Linked DNA regions of Homo sapiens. The gene in region 2 interacts genetically with the main gene of each other region. Each region holds a gene or a part of one and is shown on either strand. Other genes may lie near its edges.

Region 1 (7,284 bases), on a different chromosome or scaffold from region 2:
TTAAAGTTTGTTAAATAAAAACAGATTTTTTCTTCCTAATGCATGTTTTCTCTTCATTTTTCTTATCTGAAGTCTTCCCTTGGAATATAAGTAAGTCTTCCTCCTTCCCATTTAATATCTCATTGCCTGATTGTTTTTCAGTTTAAACAACAGGAGAATCCAATAACAAATATTTACCAATAGCTAAGAGTTACTGAAAGTGCCTTCTTAGTTATAAAAAGTTAATCCATTTTTAATGTAAGGCAAGAAGTTCACAATTAAACCTAAGAGGATAATTTACTATAGATAGACGTGAAGTACCTAAAAAGAAATGAATATCCAATCTACACCTATATAATGGCAAAAATTAGAACTAGAGTTTCAGAGTCAGAGGGGACATTAATGTCAGGTCGGCAGGTCTGGGCTCACATCCAATCCAAACCAAGCTTTGCTGAGTGTCCCTTCCCTCCACTTTCTCCTGAATCATTCCCCCTTGGGCTAGGAGTTTCCAAGAAGGCAAATAAACTAAGATAAGCAACAAGAGCAAAGAATGGCAACTCAAATGTGCAGTTCAAGGCTTTGAATACGAATTTTTTTTAACACTAATGAAAAAGGTAGTATCATAGCTCTTAAAATATTGAAATACTTCTCTCTGTCCAGTATCAGCAGATAATGCAGAAAAGCCCATTGGGAACATGTTCCTCTCCTTCAAATGCCACTTAGAAAGCTTCATCATTATTCATAAATGATGAATAGAAGTCTGGGCATGGCCGGGTGTGGTGGCTCATACCTGTAATCCCAGCGCTTTGGGAGGCTGAGGTGGGTGGATCGCCTAAGGTCAGGAGTTCGAGACCAGCCTGGCCAACATGGTGAAACCTCGTCTCTACTAAAAATACAAAAATTAGCTGGGTGCGGTGGCACGCACCTGTAATCCCAGCTACTCAGGAGGCTGAGGCAGGAGAATCGCTTGAACCTGGGAGGCGGAGGTTGCAGTGAGCTGAGATCGCGCCACTACACTCCAGCCTGGGTGACAGAGCAAGACTCCGTCTCAAAAAAAAAAAAAAAAAAAAAAGTAGTGTTTACAATATAAGGGAAATTGGGATCCCATGTTCTAATTCAAAGAATTTAAGGCTATTAACCATTTTAAAGTTCTCATGTTTAAGCTTCTCACTTTATCCTTCTTTATTCAAGAAAATCCATAATACAAAGTATTGGCAAAGATGTGAGGAACTGGAACTGCCATACACTGCTAGTGGGAGTGGAAATTGGTGTAACCACTGTGGAAAACCGTTTGACGGTATCTACCAAACCTGAACATATCCCTTCCCTATGATCCAGGAATTCTACTTGTGGGCATAATCCTTTATACTGGTGTTTATGTCCACCATATATAAAACAATGTTCACAGCAGTGCTATGCATAATTACACAAAATTGGAACAACTTCCATGTGCTTCGTGAACATAATGGATAAAATAAATTATAAGATCTATTCATACCACGGAATGGTACCAGCAATTAAAAAAAAAAACACTGCTACAGAGAACAAGGTTGAATCTTATTATTATAATGTTGAGTAAAAGAAGGTGGACATAAAAGAGCACACGATGATGGTTTGGTTTACATGAAGTTCAAACATAGGCAAAAGCAATCCATGGCATCAGAAGTCAGAATAGTGGCTACCTGGGGAGGGGGTACTGACAGAGAGGGTGGAGCTAGAATTGCTCTATATCTCAGTCTGATCGTGGTTATTTGGGCACGTACATATGTGAAAACTAATGAAATTGTACTCTTAAGATGTGTGCATATTTACTGTGTGCCAATTATACTTCATTTAGAAATATCTGGAGAGAGAGACATAGAAATTTCTGAATTCTTTCCTAAATAGAAAAGAATTCCATGCAGCTTAAATATCGTTGCAAGTATTGATGCTTATACCTTTAGAAAGCCCATTATGCTTCTGAAAAATGCACTTACTACTTAATATCATACATAATAGAAAGCTAACATTTTGTATTAACGGAATCTGGAAAACATATTGTACTACACATTTGAAATTACAGATTTACTAACTAGTAAAGATAACTATTTAAGAACTAAAATGTCTTTGTTTTTCAACTCTTTTCCCCCGATTTCCATTTTTTACTTTTTATATTTCAGAATTATTTGTAACAAAAGCTATTGGATATAATTCCTGCACTTCTATATTGCAAGCATTTTCTCTATTTACCACAGAGACTTCAAGTCCTAGCATTTCAGAGCTGAAGGGGACTCGGACGGACTCCCTCACTGCACAGATGAGGACGCGGAGGCCGGGGGAGGTGAGTGTCAGTCCCAAGGTTGCAGACCTAGGACAGGGACCGGAGCTGCCGGGCACCCAGAACTCTGTCGCCTTCAACCCAAATTCGATTCAGTCCTCTCATCTTTCCAAATAGAAAGCTGACGCGAACCGATGGGAAGATTTTTTTTTTCAATAACAACTATGCTACCCAGCAGATTCTTTGGGGACAGTCCTCGGAGTCCTTGAAAACCCCTTTGGGGTTTATGCCAGGATAAGAAGAGACTAGAAGAAAGGGACAGCTAGTATTTTAATATGTAAATCTGTTTGCATAATATTTCCTAGGTAAACTATTCGTTGATCCAACCAAAATTCGGCGGGGCTGGGGGGTATCGTTATTGAGGATGACTCGCTCTAGGGGAGAACGCGGACGCATTTTCCCATCAGAGTTCCCTCCATAAATCAAAACCTCAAAAGAAGAGTTAAAGACGACACCCAGGTGTCTACAGTATCCAAGGGCCGGGCCAGGAGAGGTCCTTGGCCACCTGGCGCCGAGTTCGCGGCCGCAGACTCCCACGGACGGCCCAGCACCCGAGCGCGCGGGCCGAGCTGCCCCAGACCCGGCGCAGCGCCTCGGCGAGGCCGTCTGCGAAGTCCGGGCCGCCACTCGGGACCGCGGCCCGAGCCAGAGGAGAGACTTCGGAGAAGAGGGAAGAGGACGCGGGGTGGGAAACGCCGGGGCCGCAGGCAAGTAGTGGGCGAGTCCGGAGGGCGCGAAAGAGGGGAGGGGCGCGGGAGGCAATGGAAGGAGCGAGCGCGGGGAGGAGCGAGGCGGCTGGGCCGGAGGAGGCGCGCGCCCGGGTCCACACTGCGGGGTGGGGGCTGAGGGACCGCGAGGGGCTGCGAGCGAGCGAGCGGGGCCTTACCGAGCAGCGGCAGCTGGCCGCCGTCGCGCGCCAACGCCGGCATGGCCTCCGGAGCCCGGGGTCCCCAGGCCGCGCCGGCCCAGCCCTGCGATGCCGCCTGGAGCGGCGCGCCTCGCGCTGCAGGTGGCTCTCTTAAGGATGCGCGTCACCGACCGCAAATTCCCTCGGACTGGTGCAAAGTGGAAGGGGGGAGGAACCCTCTCCCCAGAGGCAGGGACCGAGGCGGGAGCGGAGAGGTTGGGCAGAGCCGAGCAGCCGGTGCCTGGCGCAGCGCTGCAGCCGAGCCCACGTGCCCGCCGCGGTCCGCAGCCTGTGCTCGGCGGCCCCCGGGGCTCCCCGACTGCGGCGGGGAAGATTGGGCGCGGTCCCGCCGGAGAAGTTGCACTGGCTCCGCGGCTCTGCCGCCTTGCTGCCCCTGTGAGTCCCCGAACTCTGTCGTTTGGATCCGGGGCGTGGGGACTGCAGGGAGCCACAAACCACCCTCCTAGTGCGCTGGGATCTTTGAGGCCCTGAGAAAGGCGCTGAATCCGCTCGGCACGCTGGCAACTCCCGCCAGCGCACAGGCGAGCATTCCATTAAGAACCATTCCATTCTTAATTGTGGACTGATTTCCTTTGTCTCTGCCTCCATCTCCTAGGATGCTCAGGACCCAGTCAGCGGCGGGATCAAGAAAAACAGGCAGGGTTTCAATGTCAACCAAGGCAATTAGGGAGGTTAACAAACAGCCTTCAAAACAAAACACACAGAAAATACATCCCAGAGGATGTTGCGAATCATCCGCTCAATAGTTCTTGTTCTTCATCGCATAATTTTTCGAGTTGAAAATTATTATTATTTTCTTTGCAATAAGTTGAGGATTGGAAAGCTCTGGATGCCAGTTCTGGTTCTTCCCTTACTTAACTAGCCGTTTGACCTCCACAAACCTCTGTTTACTCATCGTAAAGGAAAGGGATGGACCAAATGGTTCATAATGTCTCTCCCAATTCTAGGAATTCCACGCTCTTAATTATTTTAATTATTTTCTAATAAAGCATGAAAATTGACTGTTTACTCTTGGCCATACAGTTCTTTTCCTTAGATGTTGTCTACAGTACAATAATTCTTTCCCCTAGGGTATGGCAGAAACTTTAGAAGTGTCTACCATGGTGCAGCCACTATGGAAAACACTATAGAGGTTTCTCAAAAAATTAAAAAAAATACGGTCCAACAATTCCATTTCTGGCCATGTAGCCAAAAGAATTGAAAGCAGGGTCTTGAAGAGATGTCTGTACACCCGTGTTGAAAGCAGCATTATTCACAGTAGTCAAAAGGCAGAAGTAACCCATGTCCACAACAGATGAATGATAAACAAAAATGCAGTATATACATACGACTGAGTATTTTTCAGCTTTAAAGAGGAGGGAAATTCTGATACAGCTAAAATATGGATGAATCTTGACATTATGCTAAGTGAAATAAGCTAGTCCCAAAAAATACAATACTGTATCCCATTACAAATTCATAAAGACAGAAAGTTAAATGGTGGTTACCATGGGCTGGGGGCAGGGGGAAATGGGGAGCCAGTGTTTAATGGATACAGAGTTTCAGTTTTGCAAGATGAGCAGAGTTCTGGAGACTGGTTGCACAACAATGTGAATGTACTTAACGCTACTAAACTGTACACTTAAAAATGGCTAAGGCTGGGTGCGGTGGCTCATGCCTGTAATCCTAGCACTTTGGGAGGCCGAGGTGGGCAGATCACCTGAGGTCAGCAGTTCGAGACCAGCCTAGCCAACATGGTGAAACCCCATCTCTACAAAAATGCAACAATTAGCCAGGCGTAGTGGCGCATGCCTGTAATCCCAGCTACCTGGGAGGTTGAGGCAGGAGAATCACTGGAACCCGGGAGGCAGAGGCTGCAGTGAGCTGAGATCACACCACTGCACTCCAGCCTGGGTGACAGAGTGAGACTCTGTCTCAAAAACAAAAACAAAAACAAAAAGTTAAGATGGTAAATTTTATGTATGTGTATTTTACCTCAATTTTAAATTTTTTAAGTTTTTGTGTAGCTGCTGGGGGTTTAAAAATTTTTTTAAAGAGTGTTGTGTCTACCTTAGGTCAGAAACAGAAGTGAAGGAAGATGGCCTGAAATAAGTGAAACATGAGGAGATAAAGCAATGAAACAGGCTGGTTATGGGGAGAAAAGCGAGCTTCCAATGGCCAAGACCTAACACACTACCTTCTATTTAAAGCTCAATTACTGTCTTAAAGGAAACTGATTGGCTGGGCGCTGTGGCTCATGCCTGCAATCCCAGCGCTTTGGGAGGCCAAAGCGGGTGGATCATTTGAGGTCAGGAGTTGGAGACCAGCCTGACCAACATGGTGAAACCCCATCTCTAACAAAAATACAAAAATTAGCTGGGCATGGTGGCACTGTAGTCGTAGCTACTTGGGAGGCTGAGGCAGGGGAATTGCTTGAACCCAGGAAGCAGATGTTGCAGTGAACTGAGATCATGCCACTGCACTCCAGCCTGGGCAACAGAGCAAGACTTGGTCTTCGCCGGGCGTAGTGGCTCATGCCTGTAATCCCAGCACTTTGGGAAGCTAAGGCAGGTGGATCACGAGGTCAGGAGTTCAAGACCAGCCTGGCAAAGATGGTGAAACCTGTCTCTACTAAAAATACAAAAAATTAGCCAGGCGTGGTGGCATACGCCTGTAATCCCAGCTACTCAGGAGGCTGAGGCAGAGAATTGCTTAAACTTGGGGAGCGGAGGTTGCAGTGAGCCAAGATCGCGCCACTACACTCCAGCCTGGGCGACAGAGGGAGATTCCGTCTCAAAAAAATAAATAAATAAAATGAAAAACTAAAAAAAAAATGAAACTGATTATTACAAATTTGCAGAACATCAGCTTGAGTGCAGCAGTATTCAGGATACAAAATCATAAAGATACTGCTGCTTTGTCCAAGAATCTTGGACACAAGGCAGAGATCTTCATGAAAAAGGGGGTTGGTGAGAGAGGAGAAGTTAGGAATGGTTTCTTTTTTTGAGACAGAGTCTTGCTCTGTCGCCCAGGCTAGAGTGCAGTGGCACGATCTAGGCTCACTACAACCTCCGCCTCCCGGGTTCAAGCGATTCTCCAGCCTCAGCCACCTGAGTAGCTGGGATTACAGGCACCCGCCACTGCGCCCAGCTAATTTTGTATTTTTAGTAGAGAAGGGTTTCACCATCTTGGCCAGGCTGGTCTCAAACTCCTGACCTCGTGATCCACCCTCCTTGGACTCCCAAAGTGCTGGGATTACAGGTGTGAGTCACCGCGGCCAGCCAGGAATGGTTTCTAGGAACACTTGATTTTCCGTGGAAATTGGTGGAAAAAATAATTCTAGAAGGAGCAAATCTTATAGACTGAAATATTTTGGAGTATGAGGTATAGGCTAACAGAAGGTGAAGTAATGCCCATGTTTTTCTGTGATGTGCCAAGAGTCATATCTAATATGAGAACTAATTTCTTCCTCACAGCAACACTTAAGGAAAGTAGCCTGAAATTGTCTAGAGTCCTGGATTACACGCCCAGGTATGCATGCCCAAGTATGAAATTTTGGTGTCAGAGTTCATGATAGGAATTCTGTAATAAAGAAACTCTTAAAGGGTCAAAAGCAACTAGAAGAAATGAGCTGAAACGGGAAATCGGAAAAGAGAAGAGTAAGTTTGTTTCTGGGTTGAATGGAGTGTCTAGTGCTAACTCTACGAAAGGATGTATTTTATCTAGATTCTTAGCACCATGATGCTTAGCCATGAGTAAGTGGTCATCTATCTTACCAGCATCTTGATACCATGTTTCCACCCCTTAAGTCACACAAATATCTCCTCTCCCTTTCCTCTCTCTCTCCAAAAATTGTGACATAGTTTCGTAGCAGCTCACAGGTGAAATACTTTCATGTCATTTTTAACTTACAAAGCCTTATGTTTTCCTGAAAATCAGGGACAAACAAAAGGAATATTTGAATAGGGTTCATGTGAGTTCAGTTGAGATATCAACTTTATAGTATAATTTTACACATCTTTTATTAATAGGGGCTTTGAACTCACCAATTGGCAAAATCTGACAATACAAAGTGTTGACA
Region 2 (5,153 bases):
AGACTGAAAACGACCTAGAAGTAAACTTTAGAATTCACAAGCATATTTCACAAGGCCGCTGGATAGAAAACCAATATGTAAGAATTATGTCTCCACCGGGCACGGAGGCTCATGCCTGTAATCCCAGCACTTTGGGAGGCCAAGGCAGGTGAATCACGAGGTCAGGAGTTCAAGAGCACCCCGGCCAAGATGGCGAAAGCCCATCTCTAGTAAAAACACAAAACTTAGCCAGGCGTGCTGGTGGGTGCCTATAATCCCAGCTACTCGGGAGGCTGAGGCAGACAATTGCTTGAATCCGGGAGGCGGGGTTGCAGTGAGCAGAGATCGCGCCACTGCACTCCAGCCTGGGCGACAGAGCAAGACTCCGTCTCAAAAGAGGACAAAGAAAAAAAGAAAAAAAAAGAACGATGTCTCTACATACCAGCTCAGAGAGTTACAATACACGATTTCAAAGAATGATACATATTTCACAGCATCAAAAAGCTAGAAATAAACTTCACAAAAGATGCGCAAGACTTCTTTGCAGAAGGCTGTAAAGCTTTATTGGGAGAATTTTAATGAACAAATTTCCAACATAGGAGCAGCCTGCATCATTTCAACGTGTCTTCTTTTAACACTGTGATTGCTTTTCACCTGTAACAGAAACACAACGATTGGGAACATGACTTAGCAACAGATTATTCAGATGACCCTAAAGGCATACAAAGCACACTACAGTTTGGGTTTTATTAAATGGACTAAAAACAGAACCCTATGGGAGATCCCGTGTCTTACACGCAATTGAACCTCTGCATTAACTTTGAGCGTAGACCTGCAGAATTTAAAAGGAATTTCCTCCCTGAACATCAAGTGCTTCCTTTCAAGTCACAAGCACTTACAATTAACAGTCAGCAATTTGGAAAACACATGCGTAAAGCATACTTCAGTTGATTACTCAGGAAGTACTAGAGTCATGGTCTTTCAACTTCAAATCTTATCAATTCATGTCTCTAAAGGTGAAACTTACATGTAACATTTGATATGATTAGAGATGATTATATCGTATGTGTGTCTACAGTCTTATTAGAAATAGTGGCTCATGAAGACTGACAGTGGGGCAGGGAGCATGCATAGCACAGGCATCTTACTCACACCCATGCTGAGCATCACTGACCTACATGCCACAGATGATACGAACTAAACGGTCTCTCGCCATTTGATATTTATTTCAGTCACTCAAGGTTTCCGTGGGGAAAGTTTTAAGAAGCAATTGTACCATTTGACCCAGCCATCCCATTACTGGGTATATACCCAAAGGACTATAAATCATGCTGCTATAAAGACACATGCACACGTATGTTTATTGCGGCATTATTCACGATAGCAAAGACTTGGAACCAACCCAAATGTCCAACAACGATAGACTGGATTAAGAAAATGTGGCACATATACACCATGGAATACTATGCAGCCCTAAAAAATGATGAGTTCATGTCCTTTGTAGGGACATGGATGAAACTGGAAATCATCATTCTCAGTAAACTATTGCAAGAACAAAAAACCAAACACCGCATATTCTCACTCATAGGTGGGAACTGAACAATGAGATCACATGGACAGAGGAAGGGGAATATCACACCCTGGGGACTGCTGTCGGGTGGGGGGAGGGGGGAGGGATAGCACTGGGAGATGTACCTAATGCTAGATGATGAGATAGTGGGTGCAGCGCACCAGCATGGCACATGTATACATATGTAACTAACCTGCACAACGTGCACATGTACCCTAAAACTTAAAGTATAATGATAAATAAATAAATAAATAAATAAATAAATAAATAAATAAATAAAAGAAAAAAAAAGAAGCAATTGTTCATTAAAAGCCAGAGAAACCCTGCCTGGGCAACACAGTGAGACCTCATCTCTACAAAAATGAAAACAAAAAAATGTAGTCAGGCACGGTGGCTTGTGCATGTAGTTCCAGCCACTCGGGAGGCTGAGGTGGGAGGACGGCTTTAGCCTGGGAGCCAGAAGTTGCAGTGAGCTGAAATTGCATCACTGCACTCCAGCCTGGGTGACACACTGAGACTCTGTCGCAAACAAACAAACAAACCAAGAAGAGGGAGAATTCACAATTTCACAAGATCTTACACTACGTATTCAGCTCTCCACACGGAAAAACTAGGATGAAGCAGAGGGCCGGCTCACTGTCTTACTGACAATGAAATCTCAATTCAGAGATTTTCAGATGACTCGGGCCAGGGTTTCATGATTTGTGATTAACAAACCATGCGAAGCAGATGATCTCTGTGTCCCACGCATTCTATGCAACAGGATCAGAGTATGAAAGAAACGGAATGCAAAATGGTTTTAAAATCTCTGACTTAAACTCACTATTTTCATAAGAACCAAAGATAGGTTTAGAAGGGAAAGGACTCACTCAGAATCTCGCCAAGGCTGTAAGAGCTGGTATTAGAACCCGCATGAGTGCTTCAGCATTTTTCACACCAAGTGATGGGTGTTACAAACGTGTTATGTATTGATTAAAAGCAGACCTTTACAAAAGCATCTGAAAATTGTGAGCTACTGGTTTAAGGATTTACACTCAAAACTTTTAATTCAACATAGCTTTGACTCAGTTTGTTTCCCTACCTGACAGTCTATCAGTCGGGTGCTGGGGCCTGAACTACGTTTCAAATAACCTTTATATAAGAACTCTGTTACTAAAGAGGCAGTATTGTTACCTCTCCGTTATTAAAAATATAATGCTGGGTCGGGCACGGTGGCTCTCGCCTGTAATCCCGGCAATTTCAATGGTCGAGGCAGGTGGATCACCTGAGGTCAGGAGTTCGGGAACAACCTGTGCAACATAACGAAACCCTGTCTCTACTAAAAATACAACAATTAGCTGGGCGCGGCGGAGCATGCCTGTAAGCCCGGCTCCGCCAGAGGCTCAGGCAGGAGAATCACTTGAACCCTGGAGACAGAATTTCCAGTGAGCCGAAATGGCACCACTGCACTCCAGCCTGGTCTTCAGAGCGAGACTCCGTCTCAAAAACATAGTAACAATTACAATATGATACTGTGGAAACAGACACCCTACAATGTGCATGCCTAATGGATTGCCTACCTTCTTCAGGCGTTTTCACCTCCTCTGGATTTGGCGGGTCCATCTCCTGCCCATCAGGACCATCTTCACACTCACACCCAGTCTGTGGGTGACCCTGTTCCTGGCTATGAGCTTCAGGCTTCGGCCCTTAAAAATAAAAAATACGTATCAATTTAAGCAGTAAAACATAAAGTATGAATAAGAAAATAATATTCATGCTCTCGGTATTATTATATAAAAGCTTTAGCTAACGTAATAATAAATGTGTTGATAAGAATCCCAGGAACATTATTTCAGGAGTCCATTAGCAGAAAACAGGAAAACAAGGTGTTCCAAATAATACCCTCTTCCTTTCCGAAGACTGCCCTCAGACAACTTTGCTGCCTCCTTTGCACTTCTCTCTTATTCTACTTCTGATTGTCCTTCTCGTATTAAATGACTCAAGGCTCAAATCCCGTCTCTCACAGCACTTACACTCCTAGCGCTTAGACTCTTACATGGCATGAGTAGCCACCAATAAACGCTGAGTGAGAAAACTCTTTTAAAAATACATGAAAAAGCCCAAACTGCAGAATATTCTGCAAACCAACTGGTCTATCCTCTCCAAAAATGTCCGTATCGTGAATGACAAGAAAAATTAAGGAAACATTACAGGTTAAAGGAAACTAAAAACACCTGAAAAGCACATGCAAGGTGTGATTCTGAACTGGACTCTGGATCAGAAAAAGAAATCCTATCAATAAAATTATCTGGGCCGGGCGTGGGGTCTCACGCCTGCAATCCAAACATTTTGGGATGCCAAGGTGGGCAGAGCAGGTGAGGCCAGAAGTTCAAGACCGCAGTGGCCGGCGCCTGTAGTCCCAGCTACACGGGAGGCTGAGGCATGAGAATCCCTAGAACCTGGGAGGTGTAGGTTGCAGTGAGCCGAGATCGCACTACTGCACTCCCACCTGGCCCACAGAGAGAGACTCCGTCTCAACAAAGAAAAAAAAAAGGAAAAAAGAAATTTTCTGGGGAACTGGCAAAATTTGAGTATGCACTCTGTATTAAATGACTCCATTTTCTCATTGTTAAATTTCCTGATTTTTATCTTTGTGCAGTGATGATCCAAGAAATGACTTTCTCTTTGTTCTGACGATATACACACCCTCAAGTACATAGGGTAAAGGACCATAATCCCTGAAACTTTATCGAGACAATTCACCATTAATAACAGTAAACATATATCCGTATGTGTGTGTGTGTGTGTGTGTGTGAGTGTGTGGGCAGCACGGTAAGAGACGGAGGGAAGAGATGTGAAACCTATGAAGCGAAAGCTACTAACAATTGGTGAATCCAGATGAACAGTATATGAGTTCATTGTACTATTCTTGCAAATTTTCTATGAATGTTATGTCTTGAAGATACATACAGTAAAAATTTAAAAGAATATATGATAACTGCACTGAACTTTAGGAAGAAAGGAATTTCCAATTGTGGTAAAAAATACAGATATCCTAAAATTTACCATCTTAACTATTTTTAAGTGGTACAGTTCACTAAGGAGTTACGTTTGCAACATTACCAGCCACTAGGCACAAAAACTTTGCATCTGTGTTTTCCTATACCATGAAAACTTTATTTATTTAATGAATTTATTTATGTGTTTATTTATTTATTCATTTATTTATTTATTAGCAATGAGGTCTCACTGTGTTTCCCAGGCTGGGCTTGAACTCCAGGACTCAAGCAATCCTCTCACCTCGGCCTCCCAAGTAGCTGGGACTATGAGTGCATGGCATTCAGCCCAGCTTTAGACCTTTCTCCTAAATGACAATCTAAGGATAAACCACAGGACATGTATAATGCTTATATTCAGCCCTAGAGTACCAACAGCAGTGTGCGTCAGCTGAGAAATCTGAAGTCTACCACGTGGGTAGGATTTCAGTTACAATTACAATGTCAGTTTCTGAAGGATTGATTAGCTGGATGGATTTGAGGACTATGGAAATCTTACAGTCACGACACCCATTACCTATTGGGGTAAAGAGAAACTTCACTTTGTTCAAATAAAGTTATATTTAGGT

What was found.
Region 1: changes in GAGE12D (region 2) and FLT3 together harm fitness less than expected from each alone (positive genetic interaction), as found in Homo sapiens cells (one study listed by BioGRID).

The regions. Positions count from the first base shown.
Region 1 is NC_000013.11:28,097,286-28,104,569, forward strand, and holds the start of FLT3 (receptor-type tyrosine-protein kinase FLT3 precursor), read right to left. Parts: upstream 3,292-7,284; 5' UTR 3,226-3,291; coding exon 3,183-3,225; intron 1-3,182. UniProt on the Homo sapiens protein: Tyrosine-protein kinase that acts as a cell-surface receptor for the cytokine FLT3LG and regulates differentiation, proliferation and survival of hematopoietic progenitor cells and of dendritic cells.
Region 2 is NC_000023.11:49,544,461-49,549,613, reverse strand, and holds the end of GAGE12D (G antigen 12B/C/D/E), read right to left. Parts: intron 3,235-5,153; coding exon 3,109-3,234; intron 634-3,108; coding exon 611-633; 3' UTR 520-610; downstream 1-519.